Linked DNA regions of Homo sapiens. The protein of the gene in region 4 purifies or fractionates together with the protein of the main gene of each other region. This does not show direct contact. Each region holds a gene or a part of one and is shown on either strand. Other genes may lie near its edges. The genes, in order: SLC9A3, WDR76, CMA1, USP48, PXK, CLEC3B and ZC3HAV1.

Region 1 (4,169 bases), on a different chromosome or scaffold from region 4:
GGAAGGGTCAGGGGTCCGGGGTCTAGGACAGGCTCAGGGGTCTCAGCAGGTTCTCCTTGGAGGGCCTGAGCCTGGTAGGGGGGCGGTGCCCTGGGCCCCTCCATGCCCCCTGGTTTGTTAAGGGGGACAGAGCAGCTGCTGGGCCCCACCATCCACTTAAGGACTGGCCGTGATTCTTGGCAAGCTCCGCCCGCCAGGCCACCTCTCACCCAGCCAGGGCACCCCGGGCGACCTCCGCGCCAGGTGCGACAGCTCAGGCCGGAGACCTCGTCTGTGGGGACGGGCCGTGTCCGGGGCCGCCACCCTGAGACCGGGCGCGGGCAGGACGGAACCTGGGGGGGAAACGGGGCAGGTACTGGCTTTAGGAGTCTAAATCCCCAAACGCTGAGCAGACGGAAGACGTTCCTGCCACTTTACCTGCAGTTCAAAGACCTGGCGAGGGCCTGGAAACGGCGCTCGGCCCAGGCCGCTTGCGGGCGCTGGGCCTGCAGCCGCTGCAGGTCGGGCCCTGAGTCCTGGCGCTCGGGAGGTCCCTGAGTCGGTCCCCGAGTCAGTCCCCGGGCGCGGGGCTCGGTTGGGGGGGCCCGGAACCTTGGGCTGGTTTCACGCAAATCCGTTTGGGGCGAGCCTCGGTTTCCCGGCAGCGGTGGGAAAGGGCGCGAGCGGCCAGCCATGGCGCGCGGACCCTTCCCGCCGGCGGCGTCACAGCGGCGTCTCCTCCTGCTCCAGCGCGTGCGGCGGTGCGTGGCACGAGGGCGGCAGCGACGCCAGCTTCAGCAGCGCGGGGCGGCGGCGCGCGCGAGGCCGCTGGAACGAGCGCCGGCTGTGCACGCGGCGCGCCGCCGCCGAACGCGCGTGCGCACTCGGCAGCCCTCGGCGCTCCGGCCCCGCCCCCGGCGCAGGCCCCGCCCCCGGCTCGCCCTCGGGCGGCTCTGCGGGCGCAGGCGCGGCACTCTCGGAGTTCTGCGCAGGCGCTGGCGTGGGCGAGGCGGGGCTCGGGGCTCGCGGTCGCTGTAGCCGCGCGGGGATCTGGGGTTTCTCTGGGACAGCGGCGGCGGCGGTGGGCGGACCGTGGCGCGGGGACGAGCGGCCGGTTAGCGGCGTGTCGGAGCCGGTGTCACCTGCGGGAGAGGAAGGCGTGAGCGGCGCGCGGAGCCCGGGCGCTGGGGCGGGAGGGGCGTCCCCGGGGGCCTCAGCTGTCCCCGAGCCCGGCGGCTCTCGCCTCCCCTCCCGCGGCGCACCCCAGGCTCGGCGTCCGCTGGGGCCTCCTCCCAGGACCCGGGTTCGCGGGGCAGAGGCGGAAGCAGCAACAGCGAAGCCCCAGCCCGGCCCCGCCACGTCCCCCCGCCGGGGGTCCCGGGACAGCGGCCTCCTCGGCGCAGGAAGGTCCCGCCCCAGGCCCTGCAGCGCGGGAGGTCAAGGTCCCCAAGGGGACCTGCTTCCTCCATCTCAAACCGCCCTGGCGTCCCCCGGGTGCCTCCCAGGCCCCCAGAGGGAGCTCAGAAAGCCCAGACCCCACGGCCCGCCCCTCTCCCTGCTCTGAGCTGGAGGCAGAGTCCGGGTCTGCGGGGCCGGCCCTCCCTGTATCCCTGTGAGAGGGTCGGGGACCCGGGGCGTCTGTCTGGCTTCCCCCAGCCCTGCTCTCAGCTCCCTGGGAGCGCAGGATTTGGACTCGCGGACTAGCTTTCGGAGCCACCTAAAGGAAATCTCAGGCGGCCCTAGTGCCCTCAGCTCCGTGGGAGCAGCAGAGACGCCAGAGTATCTCTGTCCGGGCTCCTGAGGGAGGTGCGGCCAGCAGGGCGCTAGAGGAGGAAGAGGGGCTGCTGGAGAGAGAGAGCGCGCCAGGTTCAGGTCCAGGGAGGAGAGAGAGCGAGCGCGCGAGGCGGAGACCTGGAGGGAGAGGAGCTGCGGAGAGGGGTTAGGCGGGGAGGGAGAGAGAGAACCAGGTTCCGGTCCAGGGAGGAGAGAGACAGCGCGCGCGAGGCGGAGACCTGGAGGAGAGGAGCTGCGGAGAGGGGTTAGGCGGGGAGAGAGAGAGAGCGAGCCAGGTTCAGGTCCAGGGAGGAGAGAGACAGCGCGCGCGAGGCGGAGACCTGGAGGGAGAGGAGCTGCGGAGAGGGGTTAGGCGGGGAGGGAGAGAGAGAACCAGGTTCAGGTCCAGGGAGGAGAGAGACAGCGCGCGCGAGGCGGAGACCTGGAGGAGAGGAGCTGCGGAGAGGGGTTAGGCGGGGAGAGAGAGAGAGCGAGCCAGGTTCAGGTCCAGGGAGGAGAGAGACAGCGCGCGCGAGGCGGAGACCTGGAGGGAGAGGAGCTGCGGAGAGGGGTTAGGCGGGGAGGGAGAGAGCCAGGTTCAGGTCCAGGGAGGAGAGAGACAGCGCGCGCGAGGCGGAGACCTGGAGGGAGAGGAGCTGCGGAGAGGGGTTAGGCGGGGAGAGAGAGAGCGAGCCAGGTTCAGGTCCAGGGAGGAGAGAGACAGCGCGCGCGAGGCGGAGACCTGGAGGGAGAGGAGCTGCGGAGAGGGGTTAGGCGGGGAGGGAGAGAGACAGCGCGCGCGAGGCGGAGACCTGGAGGGAGAGGAGCTGCGGAGAGGGGTTAGGCGGCGGGAGGCCCGGGAGCGTTACATGTGTGTGGACTCGGGGAGGGCGGCGGGGGGCCGCTCCTCGGGGCCGTCTGCCTGCAGGAAGGAGTCCACGGACTTGCTGCTGAGGCGGAAGGGCATCAGGCGGCAGAAGGTGCCGGGAGAGTAGGGAATCTGCGTGCGGGCCCTCTGCGAGGGGACCACCGTCTCCCCGGGAGACAGCCAGGGCGGCAGCCTGGCCAGGAGGCTGCGGTCCAGGGCCTCGTCCGGAGAAAACACAGGGTTGTCAATTCCTAGGAGAGAGGGCAGCGGCTAGTCAGCCTTCGGAGAGCCCCACGGCGGCAGGGGAGACCTCGCCGGGGCCGTCACCTGCTGGGTGCCTTGGAAAGTTAGGGTCACCGGGAAGGTTAGGGTCACGTGCCTTTCAGGTTGCGGGCCCTTCCCCCACATCCATGACCCCACACGCCACAGGCAGCACAGGTAACGTCTCGCTTCCCTCAAGACATACCCCACCTGCTCCCTGCCCGGCCCACGTCTCCCCGGACAGCAGCCTCCGAGTTGGTTGAGGGGGCACTCAGTGGGTGCCAAGCAGGGCCCTTGAGAACCCACAGGAGACCCCACCCCCCCAGGTCCCAGTGCCCCTGGTCCAATGACCGAGCTCCCTCCTGGGGCGGCAGGAGCCACCCCTCCCTTAGCCACGACGCCTGTGCCCCGTCCCCACCTGCAGGGGAGTCGGACGCTGTGTCCTTGGTGACACTAGCCAGGAACTCGATCCCCCCACTCATCTCCTCATCATAGTTGGGGGGCTCCTCGGTGTCTGAAAGTTCCAAGTCTGGGGAAGACAGGTTGGGGTGAGGACTGGGGTCACTGGGGGGCTGTCCTCACAGCCCAGTCAGCAGTGTCCATCAGCTCTGTGCACAGAGGTGCAGGCAGTCGGGACCCACAGAGAGGAGGGCTAAACCGCAGGGCTGGAGGAGGGACCCCACTTAGAGGGCAGTGTCCCTGGAACCCCATCCTGGGTGGGTCTGCAGCTGGGGCCCTGACCATGCCTCCCCTGCCTGGGTGGCTGGAGGGTCCCCAGAGGGGAAGGTCCTGAGAGGGGAGGTTCCCGAGCCGGGAGGGCTGGGGCTGGGAGGTGGTGGCTCCCAGTCCCAGCGTTCCTGCAGGGCCCCCAGCGCACCTTTCTCCTTGATGGTGAAATTCTGCGCAGGGCTCTCCATGGGCAGCTTCCCATTGGGGATGCTGCTGTTTCTCTGCGGAGCAAACGTGAAGCTGCTCACACCCCGACACAGCCACACCCAGCCCTGACTGCCCCCGCTCCAGGCCCCAGCCCCGCCAAGCCTCCTGGTGACCCAGCCTTACCCGCTTCTGGGCACGCTCCCGCTTGTACAGCTTGGCCGCCTTCTTGTTCTGGTTGAGCCCCAGCTTGGTCGACTTGAAGGACTCCAGGCGCTTCCGCATGGTCCTGTGGAAGATTTCCCGGTCCTGTTTCTCGTCCTCCGTGGGCGTGAGCTCGTGTCGGCTGTACAGATGCTTGTACTGCGGGATCAGGCACGGAGGTCACAGCTGTGCCCACCGCCGGACATTCTCG
Region 2 (4,580 bases), on a different chromosome or scaffold from region 4:
TGGGCTCACTGCAACCTCCGCCTCCTGGGTTCAAGCAGTTCTCGTGCCTCAGCCTCCTGAGTAGCTGGATTACAGGCATGAGCCACAATGCCTGGCTAACTTTCCTATTTTTAGTGGAGATGGGATTTCACCATGTTGGTCAGGCTGGTCTTGAACTCCTGACCTCAGATGATCCACCTTCCTCAGCCCCGCAAAGTGCTGGGATTATAGGCATGAGCCACTGTGCCCAGCCAGTATTATGTATATTTATTTTATTTTTTAATTTTTAATTTTAATTTTTTGAAATGGAGTCTCCCTCTGACACGGGGGCTGGAGTGCAGTGGCGCGATCTCAGCTCGCTGCAACCTCCACCTCCCGGGTTCAAGCAATTCTGCCTCAGCCTCCCCAGTAGCTGGGATTACAGGCAAGCACCACCATGCCTGGCTAATTTTTGTATTTTTATTTTTTTTTTTGAGACAGAATCTCACTCTGTTGCCCAGGCTGGAATGCAGTGGTGCAATCTCGGCTCACTGTAGCCTCCATCTCCTGGGTTCAAGCAATTCTCCTGCCTCAGCCTCCCCAGTAGCTGGGATTACAGGCAAGCACCACCATGCCTGGCTACTTTTTGTATTTTTATTTTTATTTTTTTTGAGACAGAGTCTCACTCTGTTGCCCAGGCTGGAATGCAGTGGTGCAATCTTGGCTCACTGTAGCCTCCATCTCCTGGGTTCAAGTGATTCTCCGGCCTCAGCCTCCCTAGGAGCTGGGATTACAGGCACCCGCCACCATGGCCAGCTAATTTTCCTATTTTTAGTAGAGACGGGGTTTCACCATGTTGGCCAGGCTGTCTCGAACTCCTGACCTTGAATGATCCACCCTCTTGGCCTCCCAAAGTGCTGGGATTACAGGTGTGAGCCACTGTACCTGGCCAATTTTTGTGTTTTTAGTAGACTGGGTTTCGCCGTGTTGGACAGGCTGGTCTCGAACTCCTGACCTCAGGTGTTCCACCTGCCTCGGCCTCCCAAAGTGCTGGGATGACAGGCTTGGGCCACTGTGCCTGGCCATATTATGTATATTTTTAAAAAATTTATGTAGGGTGACTATTCTAGGGGGTAAGAATTTTCATTAATGATGGGGTCATTTAAGTGGCAGTGGGAAATGTGTAGTCCATACTTTAATGAAAAAGGATTGTTAGTGATATTAAGGCAAAAAGACTAAAAGGGCAGTACTTCTGTTTTTGCTTTTGGGAACTATAAAGGGCTCCATATGTTTTATTTTGGGAGATTTTTAGATGAGGAGGATATCGTCTCTGTCCAGAGGTTCAGTCCTGTAAGGATGAGGTAAGGTTGGTGGTAACTCAGTAACTTAATGAGAAGAAACTTGGCAGAGAAAACTAGCATTTAGGAGCAATGCCGTCTTTACCCTCTGCCCAATGCTACCTTATTTAACCTTACTTCATTTAAAAAATATATTGTTTTCCTCACTAGGCACAACACTTTCACTGGGCGATGGCTGACCAGGTTCCAAGCCATGTGGGATCCTAAACAAGAAGACTGTGTCATAGTTGGCAGCATGGCCCATCCACGACGGGTAGAAATCTTCCATGAGACAGGAAAGAGGGTGCATTCGTTTGGTGGAGAATACCTTGTCTCTGTGTGTTCCATCAATGCCATGCACCCAACTCGGTATATTTTGGCTGGAGGTAATTCCAGCGGGAAGATACATGTTTTTATGAATGAAAAAAGCTGCTGAGTTTTTGGTTTAGGAACATCAATTTGTTCAAATTGACCACTGTCTAAGGAGCCTAGTAATCGGCGTGCCTTAGTGTGTTTATGTGGTAATGTGTTACATTTAGCAATTATAACATTGTTTTATTAATAAGACTATAAGAAGAGTGTACTTTTAGTAAGGGAGAAGTCTTGGAGGGTTGCTTCTGCAGGACGGGGAGGGAATTTGAGGGGAGGCTGAGGTGCCGTCAGGACTTTTTTTTTTTTTTTTTTTTTGAGATGGAGTTTTGCTCTTGTTGCCCAGGCTGGAGTGCAATAGCGCGATCTTGGCTCACCGCAACCTCCGCCTCCCAGGTTCAAGCGATTCTCCTGCCTCAGACTCCTAAGTAGCTGGGATTACAGGCACCTGCCACCACGCCTGGCTATTTTTTTGTATTTTTAGTAGAGATGGGGTTTCATCATGTTGGCCAGGCTGGTCTCGAGCTCCTGACCTCAGGTGATCTGCCCGCCTCGGCCTCCAAAAGTGCTGGAATTACAGGCGTGAGCCACCATGCCTGGCCATCAGAACTTGTAATCAAGACAGTATGTTGAGAAATTCTAACATTATAAATTACAAAGCTTTGACTATTAAAGTTTTTGTGATCTAATGATACAGTTTTGATTCTATAGTAATTTGTGGCTTATTTTATAGTTTATAATGAATACTTATTTCTAGACTCATACACTGGAAGGGGACCCGGAAAGGTAATGTAACTCAGTGATTTTAAAACTTGATTTTTTTAACTGAGAACTTTTTTTGCCCCCTGCCTGTAGGTTAAGTCTTACGTGAAATGCCAAGATAATTGCTGAGCAGCTTTGGTTACCCAGGGCGGGGTCTGGGTCTGTCTGTACTTTGCCTTTACTCTAGATGGCTCCTGAGACACAGGCAGGACTCCCAAGCACCGGGTTGGGATCTGCCCTGGTCCCGGCATTCCAGTATAAGATTGCCTCAGACCTGTGTTTTTCAGACTGGGTTTTTGCTCTTCACATGAAATCAAGTTAGATGACAATGACTGGTGTTGAAAAAAATGAAAAGGAAAGAATTTGTAAAGAACAGAAAATATATTTGAGTAAGTATTGTTTGGTAAAACTTAGTTACATATGCATATATATTTGTTAGGTATATATGTTTATGTGTATTCTGATGTAAAATATATATATATATATATTTTATTACTATAGTACCATGGGTAATGGATAAAGAAGTTAAAGCTACTGCTTAGAATGAAGAAGGCCCCAGGCTTACCTGTCCCGATCTTTAAACTGTCCGAAGGAAATTCAATAGCCTGTTAAGTGAATACCTTCATTCTTACTTGTATTTGGGGGAATATTATGAAATACTCACCACTTTTGGTATTTTATGAAAATGTTTTCTTTTCAGAAGTTATGGTAATTTCAATGTGTTTGTTGTTGGGAGGGGAGCTGCCAAATCAGTTACTAATATTACTGTGTGACATCTATCCAACTTTTTTCATTATTCTTCATTGCCAAATACTGAAAGACTTGTAAATGGCTTTGGCAATATGTTTGAATTCTAAGAGGAAATATTTTCCCATAATTGTATATCAGAGAAATATAGTGATATACAATTTCCTTGAAAACCAATTTCTAAATAATTTTCTTCTCTGTAATCTAAGTGTAAAAAGGTTTAGTTTTTTAATAGGTTTAGGTGTTTATAAGCAATAGTTCTCTATTTTCTAGTTGATATAAGTAGAAGAATTGACAAGTGAGATGGAAATGTTAATTTATAAAGGGAAAGAAAAGCTAGGTGAGGTTGAGTTATAATTAAACTGTTCAGGAAACATCGTAAAGGCTTTAGGCTCCCTTTTTCATTTCTATACCAATTAATCTCATGGGTTCTAGAGTGGTTAGTTCTACGGGAATTGTTTTTGTTTTTGTTTTTAAAGATGCTGAAAACTACTCTCAATCAAATTAGTACCATCATTTAAGCTTTGAATACTTGGCAGTAATTGCCTGGGCTCGTCAATAAATGTTAGCAAATTCTTGATGTTCCTCACTTTTGTGGTTTCTTTTGCCATTGTGGCTTCATAAACAGTGCTATTTATATTCAGTTATACTTTATAGAGTTATATCTTCAGGCAGTGCAGGAAGGAAGGAGAATGAGTAGGGACTTTTTTTTTTTTTTATTGGTGATAAGCTTTCTAATGGAGTAATTGTTTAAATCTAGACAGCACATAAAAGAAAATTGTCTCCCTTGGGACATTCTTACACTGTAATCTGTAGTGAAAGGTACTTCTCCCACAGACTTGCCTACAGCTGTGTGGCTTCTGTAATTATGTGTGTATTATGATTGCCTCCTTCGGGATAAGCCTTTTCTGTAAGTTTGGCCTTTATGATATCTCTTAAGCTCTGAATTCCGCTTGAGTTTTTTTTTTTTTTTTTTTTTAAGATACCCAGGCTTTTGTTATGTAACTTTTAAGGAAGGAGCAGACAATTCTCATTTTTGGTTGTCAGAGACTTTGTCAGACTAGGAGAGACCACAAATGATTAGGAATTAATAGAATCTGAGTTGCTTAAGTCCTATTTTAGTATTCTGGTCTTTGAGCTTCCTTTCCACCAAGAAGATTTTGCAAGGGGAGTTCTCCAGGAAAACAGGGAGCCTTAGGGCTATGGATACAAGGATTTAAATCCTTTCAGCTAATGTACAGTACATGGGGTAGGGTGGGGGAGAAGACACACATGCCTTCTGAATCAATCTGAGAAGAGGAAATATATGCCCTCTAACTTCAGATTCCAAAAACTTCAATGTCCTATTGGGCGGTCCTTTCTGACTTAGTACATTTCCCCCTGCTTTTTAGTAGGGTGTTGATGGCT
Region 3 (4,725 bases), on a different chromosome or scaffold from region 4:
CTCTCTCTCTCTCTCTCTCCCTCCCCCCCCATACACACACACACACACACACACACACACACACACACACACACAAACCCCTTCCAAATCCTTGGGTGCTTGGGCTGGGAATCAGGTCACTATGTGCAGGGAGAAGAGAGCAGCAGAGAGGGGACACACACTCACGACTAGAAGCTGTGTCTTCACTGAGGTTTATTGAGAGTTCTGTGACCTGTAGGATACTTCTGGAGGCTTAGGGTTGTGGCTGAGGGACCAAGGGTAGACCAGAATGAGTGGCACACACTTTGCTGCTCAGGTCCAGTTCCAGCTTCCCTTTCAGGCTGGCTCAGGATCCAGGATTAATTTGCCTGCAGGATCTGGTTGATCCAGGGCCGGTAATGGGAGATTCGGGTGAAGACAGCAGGGGGCTTTGCATCCGACCGTCCATAGGATACGATGCCCTGGGCCACCCCAGCACACAGAAGAGGGCCCCCAGAGTCTCCCTGTAGGGGGAGGAGAGAGAGAAGAAGGTGAGCCCGGGAAGTCCTCCACTCCTGTCTGCCAGCCAGCTTGGAGTCACAGTGAGACCTAAAGTCAGACGCAGGAGGTGGAGCTCCTCACTTATACATCTAGTTCTGATGCCCCTTCTTCCTTTCTTGGGACCGTCATCCACATTCTCCACATCACCCCATGCCCCCAGTGCAGTAGACTGGAATGGATGGTCAGAGGCTGTCTTGGACCACGGGAGGACAGCAATTCCTGTGATGCTCACCCTGTCACTGACTGACAACCTTCTGACCCCATCTCCTTCTAAGAGCATTCTGGTCCCTGAACAGTGAGTTTTGGAGAGGAAACCTAGTTGGAGGATCACCTTAAATGCAGATTTTGTCTTCCTGGGATTGCCCACACACAGCTGAAGATTGTGGTCAAAGTCTCTGAAGTGGCTGCAGGCCTGGGGATCCATGAGTCTCAGCTTCACCTCTTGCAGAGTGTCTGAGCCCGGCTTCAACACACCTGTTCTTCCCCAGCCAGCCACCCGGCACATTCTCCCAGGTGGGACAAAGTTGAATTGGGATGGGAAGGGGAGTGTCCCCACAGCCAGGGTCAGGCTGGCTTTCTCCTTCAACTGTGAAGGGAATGAAGGACTGTCAGTCCTCGAAATGGGCTCTGGACAGTTGGAGGTGATCAGGGAGGGACAGGGTGAGTAGCTTCATGTTATAGCCAAGTCCTAAGAAAAATTCAGGGCAATGAGGACCTGAAGGAGAAGCTTAGGAGAATGGGAAGTGGAAAGGGAGAAGAGAGGTGTTGTCACCTTTAGTAACATGATATCGTGGTGAAGAGTAGAAGTGTTATATTTTGGATGACGGAATTGCTTTATAACCTCAAGCTTCTGCCATGTGTCTTCTTCCTCTGTTATGTTATGGGCTCCAAGGGTGACTGTTATAGACCTGTTGTGAGGAAGAAGGAAGGAAAAGGAGCGACAGTGATGGCTTGGGGTTTCTTCTGAGGTGAGCTCATTCTGAGAAAAGAGGACTAAACTCTGTCACTGGGTCGCCGGACTCTACCCATCTCCCTTTTCATGGGCCACTTGTGGCATTTGAGGGCTCAGGCTTAACTCATGAAAGAGCTTTCTCAGGAAACAGACACAATTTCTACGACCCCTGGAATTGCTGGGGACTGAACAGGCCAGGGAGGACTCAGGGGACAGGGTTCACACTTCCTAATTCAGGGAACCCTGCATGAGGGCCAGCCCCTGAAGCAGGAGATATCAGTTAAACGGGAAAGTGGGGGTCTCATGTAGACCCTGTTCTCTGCCTCCCATAAAATGATGGGTTCAGGACCCTGAGAACTAGAGGCCAGTGTTCTTGAAAAGGCCATAGAGGAAGTGGCCCTGAGACTGGGTGGGGCCCTGAAAAGTGAGCCGTGTGTCTTGAGTTGGGTAGGGGTGAGGGGTGCTACTGCAACAAGAGGGACCTTGGACAGGACCTCCTTTTCCTCCGAAGGGGAGCTTAGCTCACAGTGACTGAGGCTCAAGGAACTATTCAAACACAGACTAAAGTCTTTCAGCCCAAGTCTTCCCTCTCCTGAAAGTTGACAAGACCCAGGACCCCCTCTTCAGTCCCCAGTGCAGGTGTATTCCTGGATGCTACTCTGGTTGTTCATCTCCCATTTGGAGATAAATAGACCCTGTTGTCTCACCTTCCTGCACAATGAGCAGCCGTCAGCACAAAGTTCCGTCTTATAAGGAAACCACCACAAAATTTTGAGGGACCGTTGGAAGTTACAATTTCCAGGTAGGCCATGTAGGGGCGGGAATGTGGCTTGCATTCTGTGCCCCCGATGATCTCCCCTGGAACAGAGCACCCCAGGGTTTGAACACGGCCATAGATACTCTCTCCAATGAATGGACAAATTGGGTTAAAGCTGAGCTAGGCTTCCCTGGAATCTCATTCTCACCCTGTGTTCCGCCCATCTTCCCTCTCCTGTCTCCTGTATTTCGTATCTTTCCCCACCCATAACCTCCCAGGTGAAATCTCATTCTTGCCTCTGCTCCATTCTGATGTTTTCATCTCAGACTTCTCCCACTCCCACCTTGCCCTGGCCCACCCTCCTCTGTCTCTGTGTAGGACCCACTGTCCAGGTTCCTGTTTTAGATTTCTCCATAGCTCTTGAGCATGGTCACAGAGTGAGAAAGTCACAAAGTAATGGGTAGCCCTGATGCTCAGAAGATTAAGAGGACATGTCTGTTTTCCTGGGGATACCCCTTTTCCTTCCACTTGCTCTGGGCTTTTCTACAATTGAGGTGAAATTCCTTGTTCCTGGGGGCTGTCCTAGGCTGTAGAGAATGGCAGTGGGTGGGGGTGGGGGTGGGGTGGCACACATCCCAAGTGGAAATTTCCCTCTGGGACTCTTGAAGAGAGATCTTGGAACCCTGTTTAGGAGTCAGCTATTTTCAGACTAAACATCTTTGTTTCAGGAGCTGATACTGCAGATTTCAGAGGGAAGAACCCTGATACTCACCAGCTTCAGCTCTGGAGCACAAGAGAAAGAGCAGCAGGGGGAGAGGAAGAAGCAGCATCTTCCCAGAGAGGCTGCCTGAGCAAATGCTGGTTTTCCTTTCCAGTCTTGGGTTTTATAACTCCCAGAAGGCAAGAGAGGGGCAAGGCTGGTAACCACAGGAACTGCATGGTCACGTTTTCTTCTCTCACTCTGAATTGGCTGTTTCTGATCAGAAGTTCCCCTAGAATCACCCAGTGTTTTTCTAGAAAGGAACTTGAGCCCTGAACTCCCAAGTGCTGGCTTCTCAGATGTACCCTCAACTATGGTGACTTTTCTGGAGTTGGGGGCAGGAAATGGAGGGACCATGTTTTTCTTTCCCAATTAGGGCAGCTTGTGAAAGGCCCACTGAACGTTCAGTGCAAAGACTTTTATGGCTATGTTCCATAGTCAGAAATGCATATTGCAGAGTCCCAGTGCATGCACATATGTATGTGTGAGTATGTAAGCACAAATTAAAGGTTTCAGGAAACAATCTTTATCTTAACCATGTGCAGTGTTTTCTGTTAGTTTCCATTCCACTCCACTCCACTCCATTCCACTACACGTCAAAACTTGAGCAACAACCCCATTTAAATGATAATTCCTTGTAATTTGAAAAACATTGACCTGGATCTCTCTCCTCCTCTGAACCACATGTTTTTGACAGAAGAGAGATCCAAGGAGGGTAGATGTGGGAAAAGAACAGACCCTAGGACAGAACTTTATGCAAAGAGCAATTGGGATTGGAATTAGCATTTTCTGAGAGTCTAGGTGTATCATATATTGTCACAACTCTTAGATATATTATTACTTTCACGGCAACCCTATCAATATGTATTACCATTATGATCATTATCATGTCATGATAGTCAATTTTTTAAATCAGCTATCATAGCTTATGGTTCAGAAATAGATTTTCCTGATATCAAATCAAGGTCCCTTTCTGCTCTAGCACTAGAGAGAAATAGAGGAATAGAGTCCTGCCAATGTGCAGGGGAAGTAAAGATGTAGAAGGGTGTTTGCTCCAGAGAGGTTGGGGTTTCCTACTGTTGCATTAAGAATCAAGCTTTCCACAACAACCTGGGGACACACCATTACTGTCACTTTACAATTGTAGAATTGATACTCAGACCCATTAACATGACAAAGATCACACACCTTATAATATCAGAAGTGGGTTTCAAGCACATAGCTTTTATTTTCCCTGGACTTACAGAAAGCAGTCCACATGGTGGACTGTCATTTCTCTTGGAGATTTATAAGGCATTTAGTTCAAAGACGGGGATGAGTAGTGTATAAGTGCCTTTCCCAAATCATCTCACTATGCCCTTGGTCTCAGGTTGGGCTTGTGACCAGAGTGATCCACTCCTTAGTATATATTGGCCAGGTCCTCTGTTGCTTTTAACTTAATTTCCCAAGTTCTACCTACAGCTCTAACTCTCTCTAGAATAAGACATTTAAACACATCCGTAATGTCTTTTCAAATCTGGTCTTCTTAAGTGTCCTTGTACCACTTTCTTCACTCTCTCGGGGGTTGCCAGAGAATATTCAGAATGCCCAGTTAAATTTGTATTTCAGATGAACAACAAATCATTTTTTAGTTAAGTATGTCCAAATATTGAATGGGACACACTAATACTAAAAAATTGTTGTTTATCTAAAATTTGAATTTAACTGGAATCCTGTATTTTTTATTTGCCAAAGTTG
Region 4 (4,169 bases):
GCAGGCACCACGCCCGGCTAATTTTTGTATTTTTAGTAGAGATGGGGTTTTGCCATATTGGCCAGGCTGGTCTCGAACTCCTGACCTCAAGTGATCCCCCCGCCTTGGCCTCCCAAAGTGCTGGGATTACAGGCGTGAGCCACTGTGCCTGGCCCTGTCAGCTTTTATTTAGATATCCAAAAAGCTCTCTTTCTACTCACTTTCTTCTTTTTTTTTTTTTTTTTTTTTTTTTTGAGACAAGACACTATTCACTTTCTCCTTTTTTATAGAGACAGAGTCTTGTCACATTGCCCAGGCTGGTCTCAAACTCCTGGGCTCTAGCAGTCCTCCCTCCTCAGCCTCCTAAATTGCTGGGATTCCAGACATGAGCCTTTCTCCTTTTGTTTATTTCTTCTCTTTGCAAGAAGAGACTAAATAAATAAATAGTATCACCAATATGTATTTTTCATACTTTATGCAACAATTTGTTATGAGATACCAAAGCTGAAGAATGAGGTGTTTGACCATATTCAAAGACCACATGTGTCAGGACTGTTTACATTTCTGAAAGTACTTAGGGCAATCACAGGATGAAAGCAGTGTGTACTAAATCCTCTGTCCACAGAATTCTGCAAATATTATGTGTCTTGAGGGCAGACTTGTTTGTTAACAGTGAGGTTGGTGGTCAAGTAAGTTCCTGGAAGTAAAATTGTTGGGTAAGGGATGTGTGTTTTTCATATTGATCCATGTTGCTAAATTGCCCCTCAGAATGAGGGTTTCTCTTTACATTTCCCTGTCAATGTGTAAGAGTATCTTACATATACATCATACCCTCACCAACATAATGTGTTAGTCACACTTTCTGATCTAAGTGCAAAGGGTTTCATATGTTTAATATGTATTTATTTTGTTACAATTTCTTTTTGTTACAGTTAATCTTTTGATGTGAAATTTGTTTTGTTTTGTTTTTGAGACGGGGTCTTACTATGTTGCTTAGGCTGGTCTCAAACTCCTGGGCTCAAGGGATCTTCCTTCCTCAGCTTCCTGAATAGCTGGGATTACAAGTGCATGTCACCATGCCCAGCCTTGATATGAATTTTCAAAGGCTGGATTTACTTATGCTTCCAGCCGTGTATAGGGAGTACAATGTCTGTTTTGTTCTCATTAGGGAAACATCATATGACTATTACTAAATTAAAACATTACAGAAATGTGTGAAGCACTCTAGAAAGCCAGTGTCATGCCACCTTACTTCAGTGGCTTTGTAGCTCTAGTCCCAAAACCCTAATGAGGGCCACGCACGGTGGCTTACGCCTGTAGTCCCAACACTTTGTTAGGCCGAGGTGGGAGGATTACTTGAGGTCAGGAGTTTGAGACCAGTCTGGTCAACATGGCAAAAACCCATTTCTACTAAATTAGCCGGGCATGGTGGCGGCATACACCTGTAATTCCAGCTACTCAGGAGGCTGAGGCGCGAGAATTGCTTGAACCCAGGAGGTGTAGGTTGCAGTGAGCCAAGATTGAGCCACTGCACGCCAACCTGGGTGACAGAGTGAGACTCTGTCTCAATAAAAACCAACCAACCAAACAAAATAACCCTAACGAGGACCCATAGTTCCAGCTACACTGGAGACTGAGGTGGGAGGATGGCTTAAGCTTGGGAGGTGGAGGTTGCAGTGAGCCAAGACCATGCCACCGCACTCCAGCTTGGGCGATAGAGCAAGACCCTGTCTCAAAGGAAAAAGAACAAAGGGGAGTCACAATACATACTTTGTTGCAACTTGTTTCTATTCATGCATGTAGAGCTGCCTTATTTATTTATTTATTTATTTATTTATTTATTTATTTATTTATTTTTGAGAGAGTCTAGCTTTGTTGCCCAGGCTGGAGTGCAGTGCGTGAATTTGGCTCACTGCAACCTCCGCCTCCCAAGGTTCAAGTGATTCTTGGGCCTCAGCCTCCGGAGTAGCTGGGACAACAGGCATGGGCCACCATGCTTGGCTAATTTTTGTAGTTTAGTGGAGACGGGGTTTCACCATGTTGGCCAGGCTGGTCTCAAACTCCTAACTTCAGGTGATCTGCCCACCTCAGCCTCCCGAAGTGTTGAGATTACAGGTGTGAGCCACCGCACCTGGCTATTCTTTTTTCGTTTGTTTGTTTTGAGACAGAATCTTGCTCTGTTGCCAGGCTGGAGTACAGTGGTGCAATCTCGTCTCACTGCAACCTCTGCCTCCCGGGTTCAAGCAATTCTCCTGCCTCAGCCTCCTGAGTAGCTGGGACTACAGGGGCGCCCCACCACACCCGGCTAATTTTTGTATTTTTAGTAGAGATATGGTTTCACTGTGTTGGCTAGGATGGTCTCGATCTCCTGACCTCGCGATCTGCCCACCTTGGCCTCCCAAAGTGCTGGGATTACAGGCATGAGCCACTGCGACCGGTCCTATTCTTTCTTAAAAAATATTCTTATGTATGTTTATGATATATAACATAGCATACATACAGATAGTAAAATGGTAACTGTAATGAAGCAGATTGACATCTGTTATCTCACAGTTACAAATTTTGTGTGTGGCAAGAGAAGCTAAAATCTCATTTAGCAGGAGCCCCAAATACATACCTGCCTTATTATTATTATTATTATTATTATTATTATTATTATTATTATTTTGAGACGGAGTCTCGCTCTGTCACCCAGGCTGGAGTGCAGTGGCGTTATCTGCTCTCACTGCAACCTCCACCTTTTGGGTTCAAGTGATTCTCCTGCCTCAGCCTCCCGAGTAGCTGGGATTACAGGCGCATGCCACCATACCCACCTAATTATTGTATTTTTAGTAGAGCCACCACACCCAGCCAGTTACATAGTTTTTTAAAAATAGAGATGGGGTCTTGCTTTGCTGCCCTGACTGGTCTTGAATTCCTGGCTTCAAGCAGTCCTTCCACCTTGCCCTCCCAAAGTGCTGGGATTACAGGTGTGAGCCACTGTGCCTAACCTTCATTATAATTTATTTAACCAGTTTCCTGTTGATGGACTTTGGGGTTTCCGGTTTTTGATAATACAACCCGTGCTGCCCTAGCCAGCCCTCTGCATCGATCTTGAGTGTTGAGTGAGTGTTTTCACTTAGGTTGCTAGATGAGAAATTGCTGAGGTAAAGGGACTGCTTAGAATTTTGATAGATGTCAAAAGTTCATACCATTTATCCTGGTCCTCTAGAGTGAGTGTGCCTATTACCTTATACAAAGCATTTCTATTCCCAGCTTCCATCTGATTAGCGAAAAATAGCATCTTATTTTCATTTGCCATTTTTTGCTGGTGACATTGAGCATCTTTTTAATTTTATTTTTTAGTTTTATAGAGATAGGATCTCATGTTTTGCCCAGGCCGGTCTTGAACTCCTGGGCCCAAGAAATCCTCAGCCTTGGCCTCCCAAAGTGCTGGGATTACAGGCGTGAGCCACTGTGTCCCTTCTCCTTTTTATATTTACTTGCCATTTGTATTTCTCCTGTGAATTGTGTGTTCTGGATTGTTGGTCATTTTCTTACTGATTTTCAAGAGCTTATTGAATATTTCTTTCTTTTTTTTTTTTTTTTTTTTGAGACCGAGTCTCAGTCTGTTGCCCAGGCTGGAGTGCAGTGGTGTGATCTCAGCTTGCTGCAACCTCTGCTTCCTGGGTTCAAGCGATTTTCCTGCCTCAGCCTCCCAAGTAGCTGAGACTACAGGTGCCTGCCACTATGCCTGGGTAATTTTTGTATTTTTGTAGAGAGGGGTTTCACTATGTTGGCCAGGCTGGTCTTGAACTCCTGACCATGTGATCCGCCTGCCTCAGCCTCTCAAAGTGTTGGATTACAGGCGTGAGCCATCACGCCCGGCCGAATATTTCTTTTTTCTTTCTTTTTTTCTTTCTTTCTTTCTTGGTTTTTTTTTTTTGAGACAGAGTCTTGCTCTGTTTCCCAGGCTGGAGTGCTGTGGTGTGATCTCAGCTCACTGCAACCTTTGCCTCCCAGATTCGAGCTATTCTTTTGCTTCAGCCTCCCAAGTAGCTGGGATTACAGGTCCGTGCCACCACTCCTGGCTAACATTTGTATTTTCAGTAGAGACGGGGTTTCACCATGTTGGCCAGGCTGGTCTTGAATACCTGACCTCAGGTGATCCACCTGCCTTGGCCTCTCAAAGTGCTGGGATTATAGGCGCG
Region 5 (4,169 bases), on a different chromosome or scaffold from region 4:
TTTTCCTGTGTATTTGGTTATATAAATGCAATTATATTTGGTCAACTAGTAAACATTTGAAAAGAAACAAGAACAGCTTAAAATAACTCTCTGGAATCTCTTTAGGGTTTATAGTTTTGGAGTTTACTTCCCAAAAAAAAAAATACTTGGGCATTACTTTATCTCTTTGACTTTGAGAGTTTTAGTGATAGATTTGGTTAGTGGAATTAGATAAGATTACAGTTAAGTCTGGTATTTTTACACACTGCTTCTCCAGAAAGGTCTTGAGGCAGCCAGACTTAGTGTTGTTTTCGTCTTTGGTTTCCAGTCATATTTTGGATAATAAAATTAAAGGGAAAGACAAGGAATTTTTCTTTTGGTGACCAAAACAGTACCCTGATATTCCCTTCCATGTTTTCAGGCTGACCTTGGCCCAGACAAGTATTTGTCAGATAAAGATTTTCAGTGTCTAATCAAACTTCTGCCTTCTTGTTTGGTGAGTATACGTCTTTCTTTTATTCTCAGTGCTGATGATAGAGTCACAGTATTTTTTCTGGGTGAACATGGACAGAAAAGCTGGAAAACAGAATGGGGAGATACAGTGGATTTCAGGTCAGACTGAAATTGTGTAGGGCTAATCTCTTAGATCATAGGCTATTTGAAATGGCATTCATGACATCTGCACAACCCATGAAACATAGTAATTTAAATACAGACTTTGAATTTTAAACAAAGATGAGAGTAGGGAAGCAGCTACTTCTCCCAGCCTGTTGTTCTTGGTGAAGGTATTTATCTCAGTGGAACTGAAAGATACTCTTTCCAGCCTGAGAAAACAGAACTAATGAGGAATTTAGATAAGCTGGGTGAAGAAAAGGCAAAATAGCCATTTTTCTGTCTGAGTTACTACCTTCACAGGCTAACCAGATGACCTTTAGGAATACATGATATTATTTACACGACTACACAGCTCTAATCCAGGGCCTTCAGTGCAAAGAACCACGTTGATATATTTCAAAATATGTGCAGAATGTCTTCAGCAAAGACTAATCTGGCCAGGAAATTGAGTTAACATTGACATTCTTTATCTTGTCTGCATGAAGATGTAGTTCCCTGGAATGAATCACTAGCGAACTGAACACAATTACACTGACTTGTGCACTTGGTTTGGCAAGTTTATTTTTGGCCATATAGTGTCTTGTCAAGCTTGCAAACCAAGCTATTAATGAGGTGCAATGTGAGGCCAAAAAGACGCTTTAGTCTTAGAGCTTGATTGGTTGTGTGACATAGGCTGTCAGGACCTAGTTCTAAATTTCTTTTTTTTTTTTTTCAAGGTGGAGTCTCTCTTTGTCACCCAGGCTGGAATGCAGTGGTGCGATCTCGGCTCACTGCAACCTCCACCTCCTGGGTTCAGGCGATTCTCCTGCCTCAGCCTCCCAAGTAGCTGGGATTACAGGTGCATGCCACCACACCCAGCTAATTTTTGTATTTTTAGTAGAGATGGGGTTTCACCATGTTGGCCGGGCAGATCTTGAACTCCTGACCTCATGATCCGCCTGCCTCGACTTCCCAAAGTGCTGGGATGACAGGTGTGAGCCACCGCACCCGGCCCTAAATTTCTTTTAATAGAAGTGCTTCTTTAAAAAAAGAAGCACATAAAAATGGTGCATATTAATTGTAGCAAAGTCAGAAGGCAGATAAGCAAAAATAAGAAAATAAGCCGAGTGTGGTGGCTCATGCCTGTAATCCCAGCACTTTGGGAGGCTGAGGCGGATGGATCACAAGGTCAGGAGATCGAAACCATCCTGGCTAACATGGTGAAACCCTGTCTCTACTAAAAATAGAAAAAATTAGCTGGACGTGGTGGTGGGCACCTGTGGTCCCAGCTACTAGGAAGGCTGAGGCAGGAGAATGGCGTGAACCCGGGAGGCGGAGCTTGCAGTGAGCCGAGATCGTGCCACTGCACTCCAGCCTGGGCAACAGAGCAGACTCCGTCTCAAAAAAAAAGAAAGAAAAGAAAAGAAAACTCACCAGTAATCCCAGTCAAACAGAAGTATGAACCAAAATATTCAGTTGTTACTTTTTAAGAATTTTTATGATAAAAAAGTAAATTATATATGTAGTGCTTTAAAACCTGATTTTTTTTTCATTAATGGTGTACCATGAGCATCTTTAGTTGTTAGTAAATATAGCATCATTATTATGGGCTGTATAGAATTATCATTGGCTATACCTTAGTTTACTCAATCTTCTATTGACATTTAGATCACCTCCAGCTTTTTGCTCTTATTTTTTAAAAAAGAAAAAAGCCATAATGAACAATTTTTGCTAAACATTATACCCATACTTAATTTCTTAAGGTAAATACCTATAATTAATAACCAATGTGTAAGGAGATATTGTGACACTACATATTCTGTTCTTTATGAAGCCCACTAGCATTTTAACATTTAATGTGATTTTCTAACTCTATTATTCCTTCCGTATTTACTTATTAGTTGGCATTCTACTCTAAAGAGCTTCTCTTCTCCCTTTTAAAAAAATTTATATTAGTATGTACTCAAGGATTTTTATTCTACCCATTGTGTTTCTTTTTGGGGTGATGAAAATGTTCTATAATTAGATTGTATGATGGTTGTATAACTGAATATACTGAAAATCATTGACTTGTACAGTTTAAATGTGTGAATAGTAATGGCATGTGAATTATATCTCAACAAAGCTGTTAAAAAGTCAGCAGCAACCATTTTGATGTGATGATCAGGAGAACTTCATGATCAATTACTCTGTTTTCCTGGGTACACCTTTCCACCCCCCAACCTGCTGCATGCCAGCCTCCAAAATCCCTGCATAGCTCAGCTCCCATGGGTTTAAATTTTCATGATACTCCTTTGAGCTAGTGAACATTGTAATACCTGTCTGGACCCAGTTTGTTTCACGTAACCAGAATTCCAGGGAAAAACAGCACTTTCCTTTCACTCATTAAATAATTTGTCTTTTCTCCACCCCAGTTGCTTAATGTCAGTTTCTCCATCTGAGGAGGACACTGTGAATCTTTATGTTGCAGAATTCTATAGAAGGGTAGGAAGATTCATGCCAGCTACTGTGGAAAGGGCTGAGATTCCAGAAGATGCTACTTTTGCCTGTTTTCTGGCTAGTATGCTTCTTGGCTTGGCACCCAAACAGCAGTGTGGAATGTTAGGCAAAGCTGTGAGCAAAGACACATTGATCCTGGTCTCCATTTGGCTGTTCTGAGATTTGGCTGTATTCTTTACTGACTTACAGAGACAGGATATTAACACTATTATCCTCAAAACTCAGACATTTTATCTCTTCCACCACACTTTTGCCTGAGCTATGAGAGTGCACACACCAAAGAGGACCCCTTCACTTGTGGAGTTTACCACATCCATTATCTGTCTCCTGTTTTCCTTTGTTCCTACAGTTTATGTCCCTTCCTCCATCTGAAGAAGGAGGAACTAGCTGGTAACTGAATAACTTGAAAATGCCATGTGTTCAGGGAATATCACTACATTCGTATGCAATTAAACCACCACAGTGCTACTTGACTCTGCATAACCAGATCCTGTATTTAAAAGGACCTAGATCCTGACGCAAATCAATGTGAATTTCTTTTTTGTTTTGACAGCACCCTTACATCTATCGGGTTACCTTTGCCACAGCTAATGAATCCTCAGCGTTGCTAATTAGGATGTTTAACGAAAAGGGAACATTGAAGGATCTGATCTACAAGGTACCTGTGCAAGTTCATGGTCATAAGGAATTCTCAAGTTCCTTTAGAACCTGTTATTGATACTTAGTCTCTAAGACTCCAGAGGCTAGGCCCTGAGGATTTGATGTTAGTTTTGATTTTATTTGGAATTTATTTTTATTCATGCAATAAAAACTCTACTTAGTTTGGTTAAAGAGCATTCCTTTTCCCATGTGAGGAAAGGTTGAACATTTAATAATTATGTCCATTACATGGCAAGCTGTTCTCTTAGGTCAGTTTTTAAGTTTGTGTTTTGCGCTTAACAAAGCAGTTCTGAAGAATTCGAACAATATGCAAGACTTTGGGGTCTGCTAAGGGCAAGACCAGGCACATCTTCACTGGGCTAGAGAAGGGATGGAACCTGGGTCAGCCTCTTTCTATCAACAATGCAGACTGTCGTATTTTAAAAACTCACATCTTG
Region 6 (4,623 bases), on a different chromosome or scaffold from region 4:
AACTGGAGCAAAAACACCCTGATGAGCAAGGCAAAAAAAGGGAGAGTTTGGGGCTGGCAAACCAGCCTGAGGTCATGTGTGCCTCACACAGAGACTGCCTCCACCAGTTATAGCAGCACTGTACCCAGTCACGTGATGTACCAGCATAGGGTGCCATGTGAGGCTGTGCAAGGGGGCACTGAAGAAGGGCATTCTGCTGAGGGACACATGAAGGCCCATTTGTCTCCTAAGCCTTGCCCTGGCTAGAGTGGGTCAGACCAGAAAAAGAGATGCCTTTCTATAATTTGTCAGTTTAGAGGAGGTACCTTTTGTAATTTGCACCAAGGTGCCCATATGTGCAAAGTTTCCTCCAGGGACTGTCCAAGGTACAGGAAGCTACTCTCATTAGCTCCACCTGAGGAAGCTGTGGGAGTAGGTGTCTCTACGGCCCTGGGCAGAGTCAGGAGGCCTTTGTGCTGGCCCACTCTCTGAGCCTCAGGTTCCTTCTGCGTGATGTTAGAATGGATGCCCTCCAGGTTCCCCCAGTTCCCTGTTCTAAAGGCCTGTGACTCCTATGAGGCCATCCTTCCCTCCGGAGCTTCCCTGCCAGGTGTGACCATGTGGCCCCAAGAACAGATGAGCTCCCAGAAGTACTCTAGGCTCCCCGCTTCTCACCCACCCTGAGGGCCAGGACAAGGACTTAGCATATGCTGGCATTCCCTTCCTTTGCCAGTCCTGCCACTTGCTCTCCCCCTCTTGGCCCTGGCACCAACTGGTCTCCTCTGGCATGACCGTCCCTTCTTTGGACTTTCTCCCGTACTTTTGGGCACCAGCCCTGCAACTAGATTGCCCCTGAGATTCTCATTCCTGGCTGCTCCTAGGAATCCCTGAAGACCTGTGGAAAAGGCAGATGCTAAACTCACCAAGATCCCTAAACCAGCATTTCCAGGGGTGGGGCCCAAGCACCTGAATTCTTAACTTTTATTTTATTTATTGATTTATTTTTGAGACGGAGTCTCACTTACTCTGTCACCCAGGCTGGAGTGCAGTGGTGCAATCTCGGCCCATTGCAACCTCCACCTCCCAGGTTCAAGCAATTCTCCTGCCTCAGCCTCCTGAGTAGCTGGGACTACACGTGTACACCATCACACTCAGCTAATTTTTGTATTTTTAGTAGAGACAGGGTTTCACCATGTTGGCCAGACTTGTCTTGAACTCCTGGCCTCAAGCGATCCTCCCACCTTGGCCTCCTAAAGTGCTGAGATTACAGGCTTGAGCCACCACGCCTGGCCAAGGCACCTGGATTCTAATGTATCTCCCAGATGATGTTGATGCCTGAGTGAGAACCACCATGGTTCATGTCTTAAGAGCAGAGACGGTGTTTCTCTGCTGTGTGTCCAGCATATAGACTGGTGCCTACGTGGAGAAAGAGCTCTATAAGTGCCTGCCATGTTGGTGGGCGGGAGACTGCCATGGGTTTCAGCGAGAGGCAGGGCCTGGGTGGCTGTTCTGTTGGCCTGTAGCCCTGGAACTCCAGGGGCCCCTTCTATGGAGACCACATAGGGCCAGGGTTCAAGTGTGACAGCTGGAGAGAACCAAGGCATCACGTGCTCTGACCCTTTTTTTTTTAACATGAGTTTAAAAAGATTTACATAATTATATTAATACTGAATCTTTGGTAAACTTGAGAAGCTGGCGATGGTTTTCCACATTCAAAAATTCTATGATTTGCCTTTGGAGCTGCATCTTTTACAAAGGCTCTCCCTTGGTGGCGATTTTGGCTAATGCTCATAGACGTAACTATGCACGGTATTGTCTTCTCTTTTTAAATGAACATTTTGTGGAAGGTAATATACACACATAATTTTTTAAAATCCAAACAGTTCAAAAAGCTGGTTTCTTTCCCAGTTGAGACTGCGCCCAGCCCCTGGTTTTTCTTCCCAGAGGTAATCACTGTTACTCACTCTTGTGGATCCTTCCAGAAAGAACTTATGCACATACAAGTAAAAATGTATTATTATATAAATCCCTTTTTCAAAGCAAATGTCAGCATCATACTCATTCTCTTTTGAATGTTTCTTTTTTCACTTTGTAAACTGAATCTTGAAGATGATTTTTTTATCAGCAGCCAGATTTGCCCCATTCTTTGTCACAGTGTTGTGAGGCCCCATGGCCCCGATGTCCCTTTATGCACTGCACTAGTTCCTGGCCAGTGGGCAACTGTCCATTTATGAAGAGCCCCGGGAGGGCCTAAGGGAGGCCCCCACAGCCCCTTCTTTCCTTTTCTGTGCCCTTGGTCCTAGCTGCTTGTTTCTCTGCCTCAGTCCCCACCCTCATCCCCTTGGACTCTCTTCTAGCCTCTGCTCCCTGGGGGGGTGACAGCCCCGTCCATTGCCATGACATTCCACTGATGTTGTCTCAACACAGCCTGGGGTGACCTCACTGCAGGCGGGGCTGCAAGGGCAAGTCTTGCTGTAGCCAAAGCAACCGAGGGACACCCCAATCCCCAGAGGCTACAAAGCAGAGCAAAGCTGCTTCTGGTGGACTAGTCTGAGTTACATTTATTTCCTGAAGGCTGTGATATGCTACAGAAATGAGAATTCATTTCTTCTTCTTTTTCTTTTCCCTGTGCATCAAGCAACAAGTGAGGTGCCTTTATATATTTTGTATCATAAAATCTTCATGAGAAGTCTTTGAACAAATACCACTGTCCCCATTTTACAGTTGAGAAAACAGGTTGGAAGACTCCAAAGCCCAGCCTGTGCAGCTCTCCCTGGTAAGGGCTGAGCGCTGCCAGACTCCCAGGCCAAAGGTTTGGTTTCTTTAAAATATTGGGGATGAGGGGAGGAGAGAAGAGCAAAGATCAGTTTGGATGATCTGGAAGGTTCTTCCCAACTCTAAGGGTCAGGGATTCTTATGATTCTGACAACCAACTCTGCTATGAGAGAACTCCCCCAAGCCCCAAAGCCCACTTTACTCAAGTTCCCTAGATGACTCAAAAGGAGGAAAATGAAGGAAAGGAGCATGAGGACACACTAAGGAGAGGGGGACCTGCTCCCTGGAAGATGGCACAGGGCTCTGTCCCCCTCCTTACCTTTCTTGGCATTTACAATCTTCTTGGGCTTCTGGGTTGGTGGCTCGGTGGTGACCTGGGTCAGGAGGGAGAAGAGGCAGAGGAGGAGGTAGGCCCCCCAGAGCTCCATGCTGCTGCGCGGGCGGGGGCTGCTGCTGCCTGCAGCGGGTCTGGGTCCGAACGCAGTGACAGCCACGGCCCAGGCTGCACGTCTTAAGGCAGCAGCCAAAGGACCTCTGTCCAGGAAACCCTCCCCAACTTGGCTGCAGGCGTGCCAAAAAAATAAAACAAACACACAAGCCTGCAGAAGGATGAAGTCCTGAGGGCCACAGAGCCTCTCTGCCAGGGAACACCCACGCAGCATCCTGGCCCTGCCTTCTAGAAAGAAGCCCTTATTTCCTAGGATTCTGAGAAACACACGGTGGTTGTCATCACATCTGCGGAGCAGCTACCTTGGGTAGGGGCTGAGGCTGGCTGTTCACTAACATTAACTCACAGAAGCTTCACACCCAAACCACGAGGGAAGCACTGTCCTTTCCCCATTTTACCATTGAGGAAATTGAGGCTCGGTGAGGTTAGGGAATTTGCCCAGGCTACCCAGCTGTCACGGGGTAGCAATGCCCCCTTATAGGGTGATCTGGGGCTGGCTGTCTGATTGGTTTAGAATATTTGTTATGATTATTTTGTGGCTCTGTCTCCATGTACTTGATGCATTTTTTGGTTAAAAAATCCAAGGGATTCCTTCCCTTCTTGTCTTCCCTTTCTCCTGAGTCCTGTCCTAAAGCCACAAAGTGGGGCATAGCAAAGGTGGCGGAGGGAGAAGCCATCGTGCCCCAGAGGTACCAGAGAGGATGTGGGGAGAATGTGCCCTCAAGGGGTGGACTGGTGTGGGGTGTGGGAGCCCAGCAGGGTGGAGGGAGCATCCTGGGGAAAGCAAAGGCCCTGCCTGGAGTGCTGGAGTCCAAGTGAGGCAAGGAGGGGATCCATGTGGGAGAGAGGCTGGTGGCAGAGACGGGAGATTGGTTACACACAGGGATACTGATCAAATAAATCTACTGAAGACAGTGGGAGTTAGGTTTCCTATTGTCAGAGAAGGAAGTTATGTATATGGAGAGAAAACTGGAATGAATCCTGTTGTGTGGGATTAAAATCGGAATGATCAGTGTACCCTTGTGGCCTTGAATACATAAAGATAAGTCCATATATATAGATGGAAATGTGTGTGTGTCTAGTCCCCACAGTCACTGGGGGGCCTGGAGCAGCCAGCCCCGCATAGCCTGGAGCACTCCTAGCACCTGAATACTGGCTTCTGAATATGACTTTCCACTAAAGGAACCAGAGCACCTTGCAGAAACGGCTGATTCTAGCACTGGGAAGTAGGAGTGGGGTGCAGAAAATGAGCCCGGAACTTGTTGTTTTGCCAGAAAACAAGGAAGTGCTTAATGAATAATGGGAACACGTCAGTAGGACACAGAGCCAGCTTGAAGGAGCCTTCAGTGGTCAGAATCAGGGACAATTTGAGCACCAACATAGTGACAGTAACAGATGGGAAACCACCAGTGCACACAGAT
Region 7 (4,169 bases), on a different chromosome or scaffold from region 4:
TAGCATATGTCAGAATGAATATTTCATTGTATGTATATAATTATAAATTTTTTATCCATTCATCTGTCGATGGATATTTGGGCCATTTCCAGTTTGGCTATTGTGAATAATGCTGCTGTAAACATGGTGTACAGATACCACTTTGAGACCCTGTTTTCAGTTCCTCGGGGGTATATAATCAGAAGTAGAATTGCTGGATCATATGGTAATTCTATGTTTAATTTTTGGAGGAACGATCATACCATTTTTTGTAGCAGCTGTGCCATTTTTCATTTCTGCCAGCAGTGCACATGGGTTCAAATTTCTCACATCCTCTATCATTTTGTGTTTTCTGATTTTTTTTTTTAATAATAGCCATCCTAAGGAGTATGAAGTGCTATTACTTTTTTTTTTCTTTCCTGTTTTGAGACAGAGTCTCACTCTGTCACCCAGGCTGGAGTTCAGTGGTGCGACCTCGGCTCACTGCAATGGCCGGCCGCCTCCTGGGTTCAAGTGATTCTTCTGCTTCAGTCTCCCAAGTAGCTGGGATTACAGGTGCCTGCCACCACTCCCAGCTAATTTTTGTATTTTTAGTAGAGACGGGTTTTCATCATGTTGGCCAGGCTGGTCTTGAACTCCTGACCTCAAGTGATCCACCCACCTTAGCCTCCCAAAGTGCTGGGATTACAGGCGTAAGCCACCATGCCCAGCCAAGTGCTGCTATTTCTGAAGCATTTTCATATTATATAATGGCATTCATTTTTAATGTCTTTATGAAGTGGATGTAGGAAAGATGAATTTTATGAAGCAGATAGAATACATGATTCTAGGATTCTGTGCAAATTAATGAACAATTAAACCTCCTTATATTTGGGAAATGGTTTATCATTTACAAGGGACTTTCATCCCAAATAAATATTTCATCATTGTTCCTCACAGTGAAACCACAAAGAAAGGTAGATATGTCATTTTTTAGCCTTACTTAAGAGGGTAAAGAAACTGAGGCTCAGAAATAGTAAGCAATGTTTATTGCAAGCAGCCTCAGCTCATTTTTAGAAGAATGAAGGATAATGTAATGAAGAAATAAAAGGTAACATTTTCAAGGCCTCACATCACTAGAAAGTAGCAGAGTGCATGTTCTGATCCCATATCTAATGCTTTTTCTCTCTCACTACAGTTCCCTCTGAACAGAGGAATGTCTGGAGGGATGGGTTTTGGTGGTAGCTTCTCAATGTAAACTTATTGTGAATGAGAAAGATCTGTATATATTTTCACTTCCAGTTAATCTCCTGAGTTAAGCCTTTTCTTGACAGGAGGAGGGTGTTTGCTTTTACTACATAACTACTGCCCCCTGGGTTTGGAAGAGAAAAAAAATGTCTCTTCTACCCCTTCCCCACACAAAAAAGCACAATTCACACACACACACGAGCACACATGCACACCTCACATTCACACACCACACGTGCACATGTGCCTCAAACACAGACATGCACATCTTCCACATGTACCCCCGGCACACAAACACACCCCACATAAACATCACGTGCATGCACGCCACACACACTCCACACGCGCTCACAAACACACCCTAACTCCTTCCTTCCTCCCTGCTTCCAGAAGGGTGTGACCTATCAAGTTTCTAGAGGAAGGCCAATTCCCTGCAGGCCACACTGCTTTGTCGATGTTGACTTCTGATATACTTTGGCCTTATGGAGTGAGATGAAGAAAACTGGAAAAATTTCCAGCTTAAACAAAGTCAGGCCTTTAGACTGTGGTTTCATTTTCTGTTGGTTTCTTTGAGCATTGTGAATCTGTCAATAGCCAGGTACACCCGTATCACGATATGGGCAAAATCGAATGCTTTCTGGAAAATCTTCTCTGATTTGCCCTAATCTATCTCTCCATTGACCCCAGTGATGAACGTTGACTCAGGACCAGGAGATAGTGGACAGCCCCACCTAAAAGTTTTGGGGTTTGGGGGCTACTTTGAGTCCCAGAAGAGAGCCGGGGACTGTCATCCTAGAGCTGATCCTCACTGTCATCCTAGGCCATGGAATGACGTGCTCTGCCGTGCAGGCAGAATGTCAAGATTCTTTCATCAGCTGACACAGTTGGTGAGCACCTGTAGTCTCAGCTACTCAGGAGGCTCAGGTGGGAGGATCGCTGGAGCCCAGGAGTTCGAGCTTGCAGTGAGCTGTGGTCGGGCCACTGCATTCCAGCCTGGGCAACAGAGCAACACTCCATCTCTTAAAACAAAAACAAAAACAAAAAAAACCGTCAGTGTCAAACCACCCATCTTCAAGATTTTTACACATCAGATTACGCCAAGTAATTTGATAGCACTTGGATAGCAAAGCTACAAAAGTGAAGAGGAGGAAGGGTGGTAGGAACTCAGTCACATTAACTCCAATGTTCATTATTTTGTTTCATTTTGGCTTTTTTTCCCCTTAGCTCCTTCTTCACATCGTAGAAACATGGCATATAGGGCTAGAAGCAAGAGTAGAGATCGGTTCTTTCAGGGCAGCCAAGAATTTCTTGCGTCTGCTTCAGCGTCTGCTGAGAGGTCCTGCACACCTAGTCCAGATCAGATCAGCCACAGGGCTTCCCTGGAGGACGCGCCTGTGGACGATCTCACCCGCAAGTTCACGTATCTGGGGAGTCAGGATCGCGCTCGGCCTCCCTCAGGCTCGTCCAAGGCTACTGATCTTGGAGGAACAAGTCAGGCCGGGACAAGCCAGAGGTTTTTAGAGAACGGCAGTCAAGAGGACCTCTTGCATGGAAATCCAGGCAGCACTTACCTTGCTTCCAATTCAACATCAGCCCCCAACTGGAAGAGCCTCACATCCTGGACGAATGACCAAGGCGCCAGGAGAAAGACTGTGTTTTCTCCCACGCTACCTGCCGCCCGCTCTTCTCTTGGCTCTCTGCAAACACCTGAAGCTGTGACCACCAGAAAGGGCACAGGCTTGCTTTCCTCAGACTACAGGATCATCAATGGCAAAAGTGGAACTCAGGACATCCAGCCTGGCCCTCTTTTTAATAATAATGCTGATGGAGTGGCCACAGATATAACTTCTACCAGATCCTTAAATTACAAAAGCACTAGCAGCGGTCACAGAGAAATATCATCACCTAGGATTCAGGATGCTGGACCTGCTTCCCGAGATGTCCAGGCCACTGGCAGAATCGCAGATGATGCTGACCCAAGAGTAGCACTTGTTAACGGTAAATACAAAGGGAAGACACTTTGGGCTAGTACATTTGTTCATGATATACCAAATGGCTCTAGTCAAGTAGTGGATAAAACTACTGATGTAGAAAAAACTGGTGCCACTGGTTTTGGCTTAACAATGGCAGTCAAGGCAGAAAAAGATATGTTACGTACTGGAAGTCAGAGTCTGAGGAACCTGGTCCCCACCACACCTGGGGAATCCACTGCCCCTGCACAAGTCAGCACTCTGCCTCAGTCACCTGCTGCCCTTTCCTCAAGCAACAGAGCTGCAGTCTGGGGGGCCCAAGGGCAGAACTGCACCCAGGTTCCTGTTTCCTCTGCCAGCGAGCTCACAAGGAAGACAACAGGCTCTGCTCAGTGTAAGTCACTGAAGGACAAAGGGGCCTCTGTGTCTTGAGTCTGCAGCAGAGTGGCTATGGCTGGTGGTTTTTCCTTGGATGTTCCCCAGTTCTTAAAGGGTAGAGAGTTAGAGGGTTTTGGTTATGGGGTGGTCTGGTGAGGAGATTGACTAGTGAAGACAGGGAAGGGCCAACCAGTAGAACCACAGGGAATAAACTGCCACATTTATTGACAATAGGAATATTTCAACTATGATTTAAGAAATAAACATAGCTTTCACAGGACTCTGAGGTCCACATTTTTGTTTTATGGAGGGGCTGTCTAGATGCTCATGGGCAAAACATAAATCATAGGAATTTTCTTGAACATGGCCCCCATTTCAGATATTCTTTCCCATTGTGAGACCAAGTGCTTTGATTTTTGGTTTAAACATTAAGATCAGCATACATGCATCCTTTTTTGTTTCATAGATTCTTTATCTGATGTCACAAGTACCACATCTTCTAGGGTGGATGATCATGACTCAGAGGAAATTTGTCTTGACCATCTGTGTAAGGGTTGTCCGCTTAATGGTGAGTAACCTAAGGACTTTTCTGTAAGCTTCCACCTTTTGGCCATT

The links.
Region 1: the proteins of USP48 (region 4) and SLC9A3 purify together in Homo sapiens (affinity purification with western blotting; 2 studies listed by BioGRID, with this or other methods). This does not show direct contact.
Region 2: the proteins of USP48 (region 4) and WDR76 purify together in Homo sapiens (affinity purification with mass spectrometry; 2 studies listed by BioGRID). This does not show direct contact.
Region 3: the proteins of USP48 (region 4) and CMA1 purify together in Homo sapiens (affinity purification with mass spectrometry, with the first as the bait; one large-scale study listed by BioGRID). This does not show direct contact.
Region 5: the proteins of USP48 (region 4) and PXK purify together in Homo sapiens (affinity purification with mass spectrometry; 3 studies listed by BioGRID and IntAct, with this or other methods). This does not show direct contact.
Region 6: the proteins of USP48 (region 4) and CLEC3B purify together in Homo sapiens (affinity purification with mass spectrometry, with the first as the bait; one large-scale study listed by BioGRID). This does not show direct contact.
Region 7: the proteins of USP48 (region 4) and ZC3HAV1 purify together in Homo sapiens (affinity purification with mass spectrometry; 2 studies listed by BioGRID, with this or other methods). This does not show direct contact.

Annotation. Positions count from the first base shown.
Region 1 is NC_000005.10:472,262-476,430, forward strand, and holds part of SLC9A3 (sodium/hydrogen exchanger 3 isoform 1 precursor), read right to left. Parts: exon of another isoform or gene 4,118-4,169; coding exon 3,941-4,117; intron 3,832-3,940; coding exon 3,759-3,831; intron 3,411-3,758; coding exon 3,300-3,410; intron 3,059-3,299; exon of another isoform or gene 2,876-3,058; intron 2,872-2,875; coding exon 2,622-2,871; intron 1,139-2,621; exon of another isoform or gene 1,122-1,138; coding exon 1,118-1,121; 3' UTR 1-1,117. UniProt on the Homo sapiens protein: Plasma membrane Na(+)/H(+) antiporter. Exchanges intracellular H(+) ions for extracellular Na(+) in 1:1 stoichiometry, playing a key role in salt and fluid absorption and pH homeostasis.
Region 2 is NC_000015.10:43,864,662-43,869,241, forward strand, and holds the end of WDR76 (WD repeat-containing protein 76), read left to right. Parts: intron 1-1,466; coding exon 1,467-1,731; 3' UTR 1,732-3,751; downstream 3,752-4,580. UniProt on the Homo sapiens protein: Specifically binds 5-hydroxymethylcytosine (5hmC), suggesting that it acts as a specific reader of 5hmC.
Region 3 is NC_000014.9:24,505,178-24,509,902, forward strand, and holds CMA1 (chymase isoform 1 preproprotein), read right to left. Parts: upstream 3,089-4,725; 5' UTR 3,059-3,088; coding exon 3,001-3,058; intron 2,330-3,000; coding exon 2,179-2,329; intron 1,428-2,178; coding exon 1,292-1,427; intron 1,106-1,291; coding exon 851-1,105; intron 483-850; coding exon 339-482; 3' UTR 176-338; downstream 1-175.
Region 4 is NC_000001.11:21,772,657-21,776,825, reverse strand, and holds part of USP48 (ubiquitin carboxyl-terminal hydrolase 48), read left to right. Parts: intron 1-4,169.
Region 5 is NC_000003.12:58,391,373-58,395,541, forward strand, and holds part of PXK (PX domain-containing protein kinase-like protein), read left to right. Parts: intron 1-400; coding exon 401-475; intron 476-3,625; coding exon 3,626-3,730; intron 3,731-4,169. UniProt on the Homo sapiens protein: Binds to and modulates brain Na,K-ATPase subunits ATP1B1 and ATP1B3 and may thereby participate in the regulation of electrical excitability and synaptic transmission. May not display kinase activity.
Region 6 is NC_000003.12:45,024,922-45,029,544, reverse strand, and holds the start of CLEC3B (tetranectin), read right to left. Parts: upstream 3,243-4,623; 5' UTR 3,183-3,242; coding exon 3,074-3,182; intron 1-3,073. UniProt on the Homo sapiens protein: Tetranectin binds to plasminogen and to isolated kringle 4. May be involved in the packaging of molecules destined for exocytosis. Plays a role in retinal function.
Region 7 is NC_000007.14:139,078,505-139,082,673, reverse strand, and holds part of ZC3HAV1 (zinc finger CCCH-type antiviral protein 1), read left to right. Parts: intron 1-2,430; coding exon 2,431-3,204; coding exon of another isoform or gene 3,205-3,570; intron 3,571-4,020; coding exon 4,021-4,122; intron 4,123-4,169.